3 separate regions of the Homo sapiens genome follow, and regions 2 and 3 are each linked to region 1. The links come from fine-mapping of genetic effects on gene expression. A gene starts in region 1. Each other region holds a variant in brackets. All regions are shown on one strand. Distances are between the middles of the regions.

The links. PIP is the estimated chance that this variant, and not a neighbour inherited with it, causes the effect.
Region 2: its variant is the best candidate, but not a certain one, in a credible set for the expression of IGFBP3 in whole blood (INTERVAL, PIP 0.70).
Region 3: its variant is the best candidate, but not a certain one, in a credible set for the expression of IGFBP3 in whole blood (INTERVAL, PIP 0.82).

What each region holds. Positions count from the first base shown.
Region 1 is chr7:45,919,274-45,923,512 of GRCh38, reverse strand. It overlaps IGFBP3 (insulin like growth factor binding protein 3), which reads left to right and starts at 2,241. Exons shown (of 5, transcript NM_000598.5): 1 at 2,241-2,775. The coding sequence starts at 2,373. RefSeq lists enhancers at 1,277-1,857, 1,858-2,438.
Region 2 is chr7:46,717,842-46,722,080 of GRCh38, reverse strand. No RefSeq gene overlaps it. Among named protein-coding and RNA genes, the nearest start is that of SNORD151, 740 kb to the left of the region's middle. The variant A/G (reference allele first, on the strand shown) is at 2,479.
Region 3 is chr7:45,969,919-45,974,157 of GRCh38, reverse strand. The region is part of intron 1 of LOC102723446 (a long non-coding RNA gene); the gene reads right to left. Among named protein-coding and RNA genes, the nearest start is that of IGFBP3, 51 kb to the right of the region's middle. The variant G/A (reference allele first, on the strand shown) is at 2,206.

The DNA of each region.
Region 1 (4,239 bases):
AATCTATATAAAACATTGTTATTGGAATAGCCTTTGAAAGTTGAAATGTGACTTAGTCTTTACGTGTGTCCCGTGGTCCCTGAGGCCGGGCTGGACGCCTGGAGCTTTGGCGCCCCCTAGCCATTCGGCACTGAACAAGTTTCTCCAACTGCAATGCGAGGGAAAAAAGAAGAGAACCAAGAATAAAACAAATTTTTTAATCCTTTCCAAAAAGACATTGTTTCTGATCTTCCCCTGTCCACTCTCCAGATGATAAAGCTGAATAAAAAGTGCTACACTAACCAGTGGTCAGTCCAGGCTCTGCTGCAACATTGCACTAACCAGAACTGCAGACCTGGGACCTCAAGAATTGCATTTGATGCCGAACCCAGCTCTAATTTCAGAGTCAAGGTCTCTGCGAGTATTTAAGGAACGGATGTAAACCTGGGGGATTCGTTTTGTTTCCTTCAATTTTCCAATGAAATCAGAGATCCTGTTCTTGGGTGTCAACGCAGATACTAGAAGGAGGTGATACAAGAGAAAGGAAACAGCAAGCGACGATTATGGCACGGTTTCCTGTAAACAAGGTTGAGTGTAGCCACAGCCTGAGCACTGTGGGAGAAGAGCTCATAAGAAAATGACGGTGCTGGGCCTTCGTCACCCCGGGGCACTCCATTGTTCTTGTCTTTGGTCTCTTTTTATTTGTAGAGGTCCAATTATTTATTTATTTAGTACAAGAGGGAACGAAATTGATCTTTCCATTCTAAAAGGAGAGTATATATGTATAAAAGGAAGCTGTATAGATATGGGGGAAGAGGTGGACAGGGGGAAAAGGGGAGAGGACGAGAGAGAGAAAGGGAGGGAGAGGGACAAGGAGAGACACTGGGCGAGAGATCGATTAGGAGAGACAGAAATGATGAATGAAGATTAACTTCACCCAAGGCTTCGTGCTGGAGGGGAATGGAGGAGCTCCTGATTTGCTATTACTACTCCAAACTGCAAAGGGCTCCTTCAAGTCACCTATCCACCTCCTAAGGCAAGCGTCCAATTTCAACAGCGTTCAGGAAAGTCTCCTCCCGCGGAGGTCTCACCGCTTCCCACTCCACCCCCACAAACTCTTTGGAAAAGTGCCTTGAAAAATTTAATCCTCAATCCAATCCTGGACCACCAGCGTCCTCTGTTGGTCACCGAAGGGAGGGGGTGCGCAGACAAAACTGAAGAAACTCGAGTGCCAGAGAAGGCCGACAGGAGTTACAGCGACCTCAGCGCGCAATTGCGCCCCCGAACTTTACTGAAAAGTGTTTAGATTGCAGAGATAAGCTAGAATCCCAACGCATCGAGAATACAGTAATACGAAGTCGCCTTCAAAAAATGACAATGAAAATTGCCTATTAAAGGACTATTTGGTTAATTACGTTTCAGCAGTGCCCAGTTTATTGTCTTTATTATTCTTTTGTCATGGGTGTAAACTCCATTTGAAAACATAATCAGGGAGAATACCCAAGACAAGAAGAACAGTTGTCATTTAAAATATTTGAAAAGCCCTGCCTTAAGGACGCATTCGCTTGCCGGTCCACTCTTAATTGGAGACTTGCGGTGTAGCAACACGTGAGAGTCTTCTTGCGTTGAGAAGTAAGCCTGGAAAGGGGCGAAGGCCCCGGGCGCATCTTCAGATGCGTATTTGTGGGCCCCTGGGGATATAAACAGCCCAGCGGGTGTAAATTAAACCCCGCAGTGCCTTGGCTCCCTGAGACCCAAATGTAAGTCAGAAATGTCCCAAGACTTCGCCTGCCAACGGAATTAAATTTTAGAAAGCTCCACGAGGTACACACGAATGCGGAGCGCTGTATGCCAGTTTCCCCGACACCGGCTCGCCGCAGGGAGACCTCACCCCGAGAGCGGAAGGGGTAAGGGCGGCGGGGTCAAGGAGATCGGGGGTGCTGAGTTGGCCAGGAGTGACTGGGGTGACCGGGGGTGCTGAGGTGGCCTGGAGTGCCGGGGTGGCCGGGCACACCTTGGTTCTTGTAGACGACAAGGTGACCCGGGCTCCGGGCGTGCGCACGAGGAGCAGGTGCCCGGGCGAGTCTCGAGCTGCACGCCCCCGAGCTCGGCCCCGGCTGCTCAGGGCGAAGCACGGGCCCCCGCAGCCGTGCCTGCGCCGACCCGCCCCCCTCCCAACCCCCACTCCTGGGCGCGCCGTTCCGGGGCGTGTCCTGGGCCACCCCGGCTTCTATATAGCGGCCGGCGCGCCCGGGCCGCCCAGATGCGAGCACTGCGGCTGGGCGCTGAGGATCAGCCGCTTCCTGCCTGGATTCCACAGCTTCGCGCCGTGTACTGTCGCCCCATCCCTGCGCGCCCAGCCTGCCAAGCAGCGTGCCCCGGTTGCAGGCGTCATGCAGCGGGCGCGACCCACGCTCTGGGCCGCTGCGCTGACTCTGCTGGTGCTGCTCCGCGGGCCGCCGGTGGCGCGGGCTGGCGCGAGCTCGGCGGGCTTGGGTCCCGTGGTGCGCTGCGAGCCGTGCGACGCGCGTGCACTGGCCCAGTGCGCGCCTCCGCCCGCCGTGTGCGCGGAGCTGGTGCGCGAGCCGGGCTGCGGCTGCTGCCTGACGTGCGCACTGAGCGAGGGCCAGCCGTGCGGCATCTACACCGAGCGCTGTGGCTCCGGCCTTCGCTGCCAGCCGTCGCCCGACGAGGCGCGACCGCTGCAGGCGCTGCTGGACGGCCGCGGGCTCTGCGTCAACGCTAGTGCCGTCAGCCGCCTGCGCGCCTACCTGCTGCCAGCGCCGCCAGCTCCAGGTGAGCCGCCCGCGCCAGGTGCGCTGCGTGCAGCACCCGGCGCACTGGCGCCGAAGGGCCTGGGGGTTGCTGGGTGCCGCTGCGGGAGACTCCGCTTTTCTTCTCACTGGAGATAATATGTGGGGAAACTGAAGGCGCTCCGGGAAAGGTGAAGGCGGTCGCCGGAGGGACCCTCCCCAGCCGGCCCTCTACTTGCTCGATTCTCTAAGTGCAGAGTACTTGTAAATTGCAAAGCGCTTTCAGTGAAAATGGGTTAAAGGTTTCCGGAGCTGAGGGGAGCGGTACCGATGTTTAGCTGTTGGAAAGATCCTGGACACAGGAGATTCTCCTCGCCCCGCACGGGGGTGCACACGGACTGCAATCCCAGGGATGCTTGGGGATGGGGGGGATATAGGCGGATTTGGACCAAGGAAGGTGGGCAGGCACGTTGTAGGAAATAGTACCTCTCTTTTAAAATACTGACTTTGCACAGCCTTTTGGTTTGCAAAGCAATGTCTAGTCCCGGTATGTCCAAAAACAAGTAAAGTGGATTCGGGTTTTGATATCTTCTGCGGTTGGAAAACCTGAAGCTGAAAAAGAAGTAACTTCTTAAGGTTACCCAGCGGCCACAACAGAGTGTAGGTTTGAACTCCGCGTGCCACTTTCAGTACCATACCATTCTTACAACTCGGGCCACCCCTGCACCTGCGCCGACCTCAAACAAACTTCCAGGTGCGTGGTGGGTGCGGGCAATGTGGACTAAGTCAATTTCAATGACACGGAAGGGAATTGGAATCAGTCCTAGGGCTGTCTCCCTTCTTAATCTGAAATGGGGGGGGGAATGAGATGTTGTTAAGGGGAGCCCCAGAAGAGGAAAAATGCAAACATTTGGCAGAGTTACCCTCTTGGCTTAGCCACTATCAGTATCAGGCAGACAGCGACTCTGGTAAGGGCATCACATTGTTCCCTTAAAAAAAGGAGCGGGGGTTGTTTAAATGGATTTGGCAGCTGTTCTTTCAAGCATTCTTAGCCAGCCTCACCTAGTTATATGAGAAATAAAGTTCCTGCCTTGCACAGCTGAAGGCTGGGAGAATTCTCCCCATCCTAATTCCCCCAACTCCCCAACGATCACGTTGGACAGATGTCACTGGGCAGGCCCCCATCTAGGGCTAGCAGGATGAACAGTCCCTTTATAATTTATGTAGCTGTAGAGTTCCACGCCCGGGTGAAGTTATTTTCTGGCTCGGCAAGGCTGGCTCTGTTCACCCCTGAGAAATGCTGGATTCATGGAAAGGCAAGATGCCTGAAACATACACTGGCTCTGGTCAGCTGTTAAAGCTGCTGGAGGCATTTGTCTCTCGGGGCAAAGTTATGTCATTTGCCAAGTGTCGTACATTATTGTGCATTTTGGGGTATTCAAAAAGTGATCTTAGAAATACTGATACACATCGTCATTCTTGGGCTTTAGCAATCATCATGATTACC
Region 2 (4,239 bases), 800 kb before region 1:
GAGAAGTAAAGCTAGAAACCATGCAGTGGAATACTATCCAGCAAGATTCACACATTATTGCAGAACTGCATTTAGTGACACAAAGGGATGTTGTGTTATGATTTTGAATAAAAACATGATTTTAGTTAAGAAAAAATCAAGCTTGAGAGGTTATGAATCTGTTCTTGTATTGCTATAAAGAAACATCTAAAGCTGGGTAATTTATAAATAACAGAGGGTTAACTGCTTCACAGTTCTGCAGGCTTGTACAGGAAGCATGGTGCCAGCTTCTGCTTGGTTTCTGTTGAAGCCTCAGGGAGCTTACAATCATGGCAGAAGGCAAAAGGGGAGCTGGAGTCTCACATGGCAAGAATAGAAGCAAGAGAGAGAGGTGAGGGTGGAAGGTCCCACACACTTAAACAACCAGATCTCACAGGAACTCGCTCATCACCAAGAGGATAGCACTAAGCCATTCATGAGGAATCCACCGCGTGATGCAAACACCTCCCACCAGGCCCCATCTCCAACACTGGGGATTACAGGTCAACATGAGATTTGGCAGGGACACAGATCCAAAACATATCAGGTTATATATTGAAATATATGGTATTTGGGCTAACTCAGGATTGTAGGTTTTGTGGTGGTTTGTTTTCTTCATTGGTTTCTCCGTATTTTCTACATTTTACCTGCACAAGCATAAAGATGTGCTTTATTTTTCTAAGTAAAGATCTCATTTGATAAGATATATTTTCTTCTTGAATCCTTAGCATGGCCCTATGTTTAGTTACCATTGTTATTCTTATTTTTACACACTGAGATTGAGAGTGTGGGAACATGCCTGGTGGTAGCCAAGCTGGGATGCATTAGACCCCTGAGCAGTCCTTCTCCACACTGCCCCGATTATGTAAATCCAGGGATGTGTCCAACAAGATCTGGTTATACTTGGAAAATACACACCAGGAAATGTAAAAATATTGGTGACAGATGGCAGAAGCAACGCCTCTGACTCCAGTTATCAGAAGATATGGGCCTTGTGGGTTGGGTAAGCTCAGCATTACTAATTTCCAACTACTGGAATATTGAGCCTGGAATGACAAAAAAAATTCAGAATTATTCTTTCACATACCCATGTTATGAGTGCAAAGCACAGGCTCTCCAGTCCAATTTTCTGTATCAAGACTTTCTTATGATGGTTGAGCGGGTTTGACTAACTCTTACACAGTCCATTAATCTCCTGGATATCCAGTTTCTGAAATTAATTACCATTTCATTCCATAAATGTCTATGAATTCCCTAGTCTATGTCAGGCTTTGGTGGGCCAGACACTGTATGCATAAACAGTGTTTCATTCTCTAGTCCCAAGGTGTTTGCTGTTTAGAGAGGCCCTAGGCATGTAGTGAGTTTAAATAATTACAACAGGAGGAAGGAACATATGGCAGCAATGATGTCCGTGGTGCAATGACTGCAGAGAAGGGCATGGAAGGTAGCAGATAAGATAGGTTGCATGTTCCAGGGTGATGTTTTCTCTTCCTGATCAACGCACAAGAAGACCTAGCATTTTAGTGTTTCTATTATGCACATAGTGTTATTCTCAAACTCAGCACACTCACACCTAAACTCATGATCCTCCTCACCCTCCACCCAGGGCTCGCTCCTCCCTGGGTCTTCACAAACCCAGGCATCTTCCCCTCTTGGCTGACTCCTGGACCACTGCCCTGTCTCAGGCCTCTCCTCAGTACAGCTCATCATGTGCCCACTGGCCAGAGTGAGATTCCTCAACAGGTAGCCATGGCTTATTTTCAGATGTGTCTTGCCTTCTGGGGCCATAAGGATATCGGCGGCAAACCACCATGGCACATGTATACCTATGTAACAAACCTGCACGTTCTGCACATTTATCCCAGAACTTAAAGCAAAATAAAAATAAATAAATAAATAATAAAATAAAATGAGGTATTAAAGTTTCCAAAAAAAAAAAAAGAATATTTGTAGCTTTTAGCAAGTAGGCAAAGGTGTTCATTTGTAGATTCAAATCTACCTTTCCAGCTTAGGACAGAAACTCTACAAATACTTGGACTTTTGGGATACTATATCCTGTCCCTTGGTTCTCTTGGGTTGAATACCCCATGCTGATGGGTATGCTGCTTCTTGTGAAAGGCTCCCACTATCTCTTATTGGCAAATTCCCAGTTATCCTCTAAGAAACACTCCACAATATTGTGTTGTGTTGCTCTGTAATGTAAACCACCTATATTGTTACAAATTGTTTGTGTCTCCGTTTGTCAGCTATGGTCTTCCTAAGCACAAAAGCATCATCAATCTTTATGTCTTAAGTGGTTAGCATAGTTGTGTACATTTAAAAAGCACTTAAAAATTGTTTATTGGCTGGTAATTTTAAGTACATTCCAAGACTAAAGAAAAGTGTGATTTAACAATTGGCTGTGGGGAAACTGTTTGCCATTGAAGTAAAAAAAAAAAAAAAAAGGAGGAGGGAAGGGAT[A/G]TGATGTGGATCCTCACACAAAACTAAATGCCAGATGGATTAAAGACTTATACACACTACTATTTTTAAAGTACAAGAACAAAGAAAACCTTAACTGACTTAAAATGAAATTCCAGCACTTTGGGAGGCCGAGGTGGGTGGATCTCCTGAGGTCAGGAGTTCAAGACCAGCCTAGCCAACATGGTGAAACCCCATCTGCACTAAAAATACAAAAATTAGCTGGGCATGGTGGTGGGTGCCTATAATACCAGCCACTTTGGAGGCTGAGGAGAATTGCTTGAACCCAGGAGGCAGAGGTTGCAGTGAGCCAAGATCGTGCCATTGTACTCCAGCCTGGGCAACAAGTGCGAAACTCTGTCTCAAAAAAAAAAAAAAAAAAAAAAAAGCTAGGGAATCTATTTATACTATTATGGAAATATGTCAAAGATATATTGTTAAGGGGAAAAAGAAAACCGTATAATAGTAAGACCATATTTGCTCAAAAAAACCCTATAATATGTATAAACCTATGTTCACATTTGCATCACAAATTCCTAAGATTCATAAGAACCTTAATAGTGGTACAGCAGAGAGGTAGGCTTTTGCTATTGACCATATACTCCTTTATGCTAGTTGATTAGTTTATGATTTTTATATGTTTTACCTGAATAAGTTAATGCTAAGAGGAGAAACATACATTTCCTAGCACCTGGTGGAAAAAGCGTTTTTTATTTTATTTTTATTTTTATTTTTTTTGGAGACAGGGTTTTGCTCTGTCACCCAGGCTGGAGTGCAGTGGTGCAAACAAGGCTCACTGTAGCCCCAAACTCCTGTGCTCAACTGATCCTCCCACCTCAGTCTCCCAAGTAGCTGGAGACCACAGGTATATAGCAACACACCCAGCTCTTTTTTTTTATTTTTTTCCAGAGACAGGGTCTTGCCATGTTGCCCAGGGTGGTCTTGAACTCCTGGGCTTGAGAAAATCCCCCACCTCAGCCTCTCAAAGTTCTAGGATTACAGGCGTGAGCCAGCACAATCTGCTGGAACGGAAATCTTTCTGCACTTGGTTACTGTACTTGTCTGTTCTGTCCATTGTCTAGAATGCTAGAACTTCTCTATCCTGTTTTCTTGATTAGTTTCAAATCATAAAACACATCTATACAATTTGTCAAAATTTTTCTCAAAACTACTTGAAGTAATGTAAAAACAACTGTTTTATCTGAACAGTTTAGAGAAAAATTTTAGCATAACAGGAAGTAGTGATAAATCAATTCCAAAACGGTGAAAAAACATAAGACATATCTATTTCTGGTAAAATCAATCATTAAAGTCACATAGAGCTGGGCATTTTTAGTTTTGCTCCTGTAAATATGTTATACCTATGACTTTTATATTTATGTATTGGAAACACATTTTAAAGAGCTATTATTGGTGGTGATGCATAATGTCCCTCAAAAATATACAAACACAATACTTTCCTTTTAGAATTCAATGCTAGGAATAGTTTACTGGTCCTAGAATTGGCTTCATTTTTTGAAAATAAGACAATGAGAAGTATTTGAACAAAACTGTTTTCCTTTTTGTTTTGGCTGTGAAGGTACCTAAAAGTGGTCAATTTGATATACAGCTATCATAAGGATATTTCAAGGTGACTGATACATTTATATCCCTTCCTTTACCAAAGTTTTTTATTTTCTCTTTTAACCATACTGCATATGTATCTTAATGTAAGCCACCTCTGATATTTTTAGAATATCTGCAGGTTATTTATGTTAAATAAAT
Region 3 (4,239 bases), 51 kb before region 1:
TGAAAGGGGCTTTGTGCATTGTTCTGTTGACTTTGGGAAAGGAAAGCACAATTAACAAATGACCACAGAGGGGACACAGGGGGCAAGGGATCAAGTTGGTTCTCCAAGGCCAGACCCACGCCCAGGAGACAGTAGTGGATGCTGGAGAAGCAGCCGGTGGAAGCGGCAGCATCCCATCCATCTCCAAGGCAGGCCTCCCTAGAGGATCCCGGCAACTTTAAGTCTCCAGTTCCTCCTTGAGGGTGTAAGGACAGCCACGGTGCCTGTGGACGGCATTGCTGAGAAGATGGAATCACATGAATAAAATAACTGTGCAGTGGGTGCCTCCCAGGTCCTGATCCTCAGCAACTGGCTCCTCAGGATCCCCACCTGGCCAACAACCTAAGGGTTCGGTTCTGGCGTGAGTGCTGATAGGCCCTCACTTTTCTGAGTCTCCCAAAATCTACGTCAATGTCAAATGGAAGTTTTAGTCATAGTAATAATAACACTAGAACCCACTCGAAGGTGCTGCAGTGTAGTTTAAATGAGATGCTGCAGCATGAAATTTTCTCTAGAGTAAAAATGTAAAGCATTGCATTTATTTTAAATAAAAACGTATTACAGAACAGAATACAAACTATGTGTCCGTTTTTGAGATGAACCGTGATAATTCCAGCTCTGTGTCCACTCCCCCAGGGTGTACAGGGAAAATGTTCCAGAATATTCTGTGCTTAGCTCAGGACTCTGTGAGGTGGGGGAGCTTCTGGGGGTGGGGGAGCCCCAGGACAGCAGAAGCTGCAGTTGGTGTTTCTCAAGGCCCCTCGGGACCGTCTGCTGTGGGTGGCATCCACGTCTATGCTCTTTTCCGAATGAGAAAAGCGCAGGTGGAAATGGGAAAGGTGCAGGAAGACACCGAGTGGAAAGGAAATCAGGCAGCTCCTTCAGAAAACAGGAGAGTTACTTCCTCTGGCTCAGCCCTCTTCACTCACACCCACATCCTGGGTCTCACCTCCGAAAAGACTCTTGGTCACAAGTGACCTGGGGTGTCTGCCCAGTTCTGCACCGACACCAACAGCCACCTGCCCTGTCCCAGCTTCTGTCTTCCCCCTCCACTTGTCTTCCCCAAATGCAGCCTGACCACGCCCTCACTTGTTCCACAGCTCTCCAGGGCCCCATAAACCAGCCATAGGGCTGCCTGCATTCCCCCTGCCCACAGGGGCTTGTGCCTCCCCAGCCAACTAGCACCTGACATTCCTACATCCCAGCCGCACAGTCGCCCTGCCTGGGGACTGAGCCCAGCCCACACCGTGGGTGCTCTGTTCCCACGGTTTCCCTCAGCCCCAAGCTGTCACCATCATCCTCTGTGGCCGTTCCACATCCTGGGCTGGACCTTGTCTTTGGTCTCACGGACCTTGGGTCCAACCATGCAGGAAATGAACAAAAGATGCTTTCTCATATCAGGAAGATAACAAGTGAGGCCAAAGATCATAAATCAGAGGGTAGGGGAAGGGAGTGGCAGCCAATGTGAATGGGGTGTACTGAAAGGCCTTTCCTAAGACTCAGGTGTTTCACATGGCTATGAGGTCTGAGACCCCACCCAGCTGGGAATATCTCTTGGGCCCAAATCCCATGTGCCCTTCAGGGCCCAGCCCAAAGACTACACCCCTCAAATTCATTGTTCTTTTTTCTTTATTTATTTATTTCTTTTTTTTGAGACGGAGTCTCCCTCTATCACCCAGGCTGGAGTGCAGTCGTGCGATCTCAGCTTACTGCAACCTCTGCCTCCCGGGTTCTAGTTATTCTCCTGCCTCAGCCTCCCAAGTAGCTGAGATTACAGGTGCACACCACCACACCTGGCTAATTTTTGTATTTTTGGTAGAAATGGGGTTTCACCATGTTGGCCAGGCTGGTCTCGAACTCCTGACCTCAAGTGATCCACCTGTCTCAGCTTCCCAAAGTGCTGAGATTACAGGCATAAACCACCACACCCAGTGAAATTCATTCTTCTTAACCCACATTTCACCACAGTGAGACAGGAAAGGATGGCACCCAGACGCTATTGGTGCACATAGCGTAACCTTGGGAAAGCCAGAGCTGGCTGGCTTAGGGGACAAGCCCCTGGCCACAGGGGGATGTTCTCCAGTATTCTCACTCTCATTCGTGCACTCAACAAGCAGTTTCTGGAGCCCACCCATGCCAAACGCTAGGGATACAGTGTCCTGGACA[G/A]ATGGGCTCCCCGTGGTGCTGAACTCTTTGTGGAACAGACAAAGAGGGAACAAAGCAAGTAAATTTCAAAGGCAGGTACAGATATAAAATGATGTAAGTACTTTAAAAAGAAATCTCTGGGACCTGATGATTCAGAGTGAGGAGGGTGACTTCCCTCAGGGACATACCAGGGAAGGCCTCTCTGAAGAGGGCTGGGAAGGGACCCTGAGGGAGGAACATGCTGCAAGATGGGTCTAGGACACCCAGGGAGCAGGGAGGGAGGCAGGCAGGAGCCAGGCCTGTTGACCACATGAGAGTCGAGATTTCATTCTAGTTTCAACAGAAATCTTCCAAAGAGCGTACCACAAAGGAGCAATGCTGTAGCAAAAGTTTGGGGGAGAGAAGGTAAAAAGAGTGGGTGAATTGAAGGACTGAGCAATAAAGGAATGGGCCTAGATATAAAGGTGAAGGCCCACGTCTCTTGTTTATGTGTTTCTCCTGGTTGGTGATGGATTCACTCTCTGAGGGAGGAGTTCTTTCATCCACCCCAAGGCTGGAAGCATCTCCAAATCGATGACCTTGCGGCTTTAGGACCACAGAGAAACATATATGCCCCACGCCAGCTCCAGATGCAGTCCCAGGGAAGGATTGCCTTTGGCTTGGGATGGGTCATGTGCCCAGGCCCAGACCTTAGCAAACCATGCTAAGGACTGTAACTGGCAGCTCACACCCAAAACCGTGCTTCTGGAAGGTAGAGAGGAGTGCCTTGAAATAAAGGGGTCATTTTTCTGTGCAGACAACATTGCAATCTCCCAGAAGTGCTGATGAAACTGAGCTCTGAAGGGAAGAAGAAATCTGAGTTTCCAAGGAGCAGAGGTTTAAGAGACGTGGAGTCTGTAGGCAGACAGCTTTCACTGAATTCAAATGAGAGATTGAACTAGGATAGTTTCTCACAGAAATAGGAGAAACAGACTGGATAAAGGAAATGAAATAAAAAGCAAAGTAAACAGAACTGGAGGAAGAAATGAGAGCTTCAAAAACTTCAAACTGAGAAGGGCAGAGGAAAAGAGAAGCCACACTCAGGATCCAGGTGAATGTGGATGGTGCCCACAGTTCCTCTGTCTCAATGTCAGCTCTCAGGTCAGCACCAGGAGCTCAGTCATTTCCATGTGCAAGAGCTGAGACCTTCAAATCTAAAAGAGGTCTTGCAATCTGTGCCCAACCGTGCTCATTCTGAGTGGAATGAGAATTCCACACTCCAACCCAAACCCAGTGAGCCTTTAATGGCATATTCTTAAGCGGCAGACTTGGATTCAGGGCAGGAAATGCCATCTGAGCTTATAAAGCCTTCAGCAGAGGAATATCAGCTCTAGAAACCCCAAACAGAAGCAGGCCTGGCCAAGCTAGAGACCTACAGATGCAACACACCATGGGCTAGAATTTTTAGCACAAAGGGCACTTTTATCACAAAAGGCTAGAAAAACAGTCCTGTCCATTTTTAGAAGTCTATCAAAATATCCTGTCAAAATGAAACAAAATACAATAATAAAAAATTCATAGCAGCAGGGCATGAAGATGAGGGTCTAAGGCAGCCCAGGAGGCCACCCACACACCAGTCTCCGAGTGTCCTTGCCAAATCTCTCTCTGGACATTCCCTCAACCCAACCAATTCTCCCCAAGTCCAAAACACAGCCTCTGCGCATCCTTCCCAACCTCTCCTCTCCCTCACTCTCTAGCTTGCAAACTCCTAGTTACCTTCAAGGCCAGGCCCAAGTGTCACTGGGTCTCGGCAGCCTTCCCAATGCCCCAGGCAGGCACAACCACCCCCTGCCTGGGCAGCCACACCAGTCTCTCTATACTGCTGATCTCCCAGCCCTGACCTGAACGAGTACCACCTTTTGCCATGTGCCCTGCTGAACGTGGGCTCCTCCCAACTAGGGCTCTGTGCCTGGGCTCTGGCCCGGAGCCCCATACACTCCAGACTGGGTAAATGTTGGATAACTATTTGGTGATTGATACAAGGCTTCTGACACAAAGAGAACTGCCCAGAGGTTA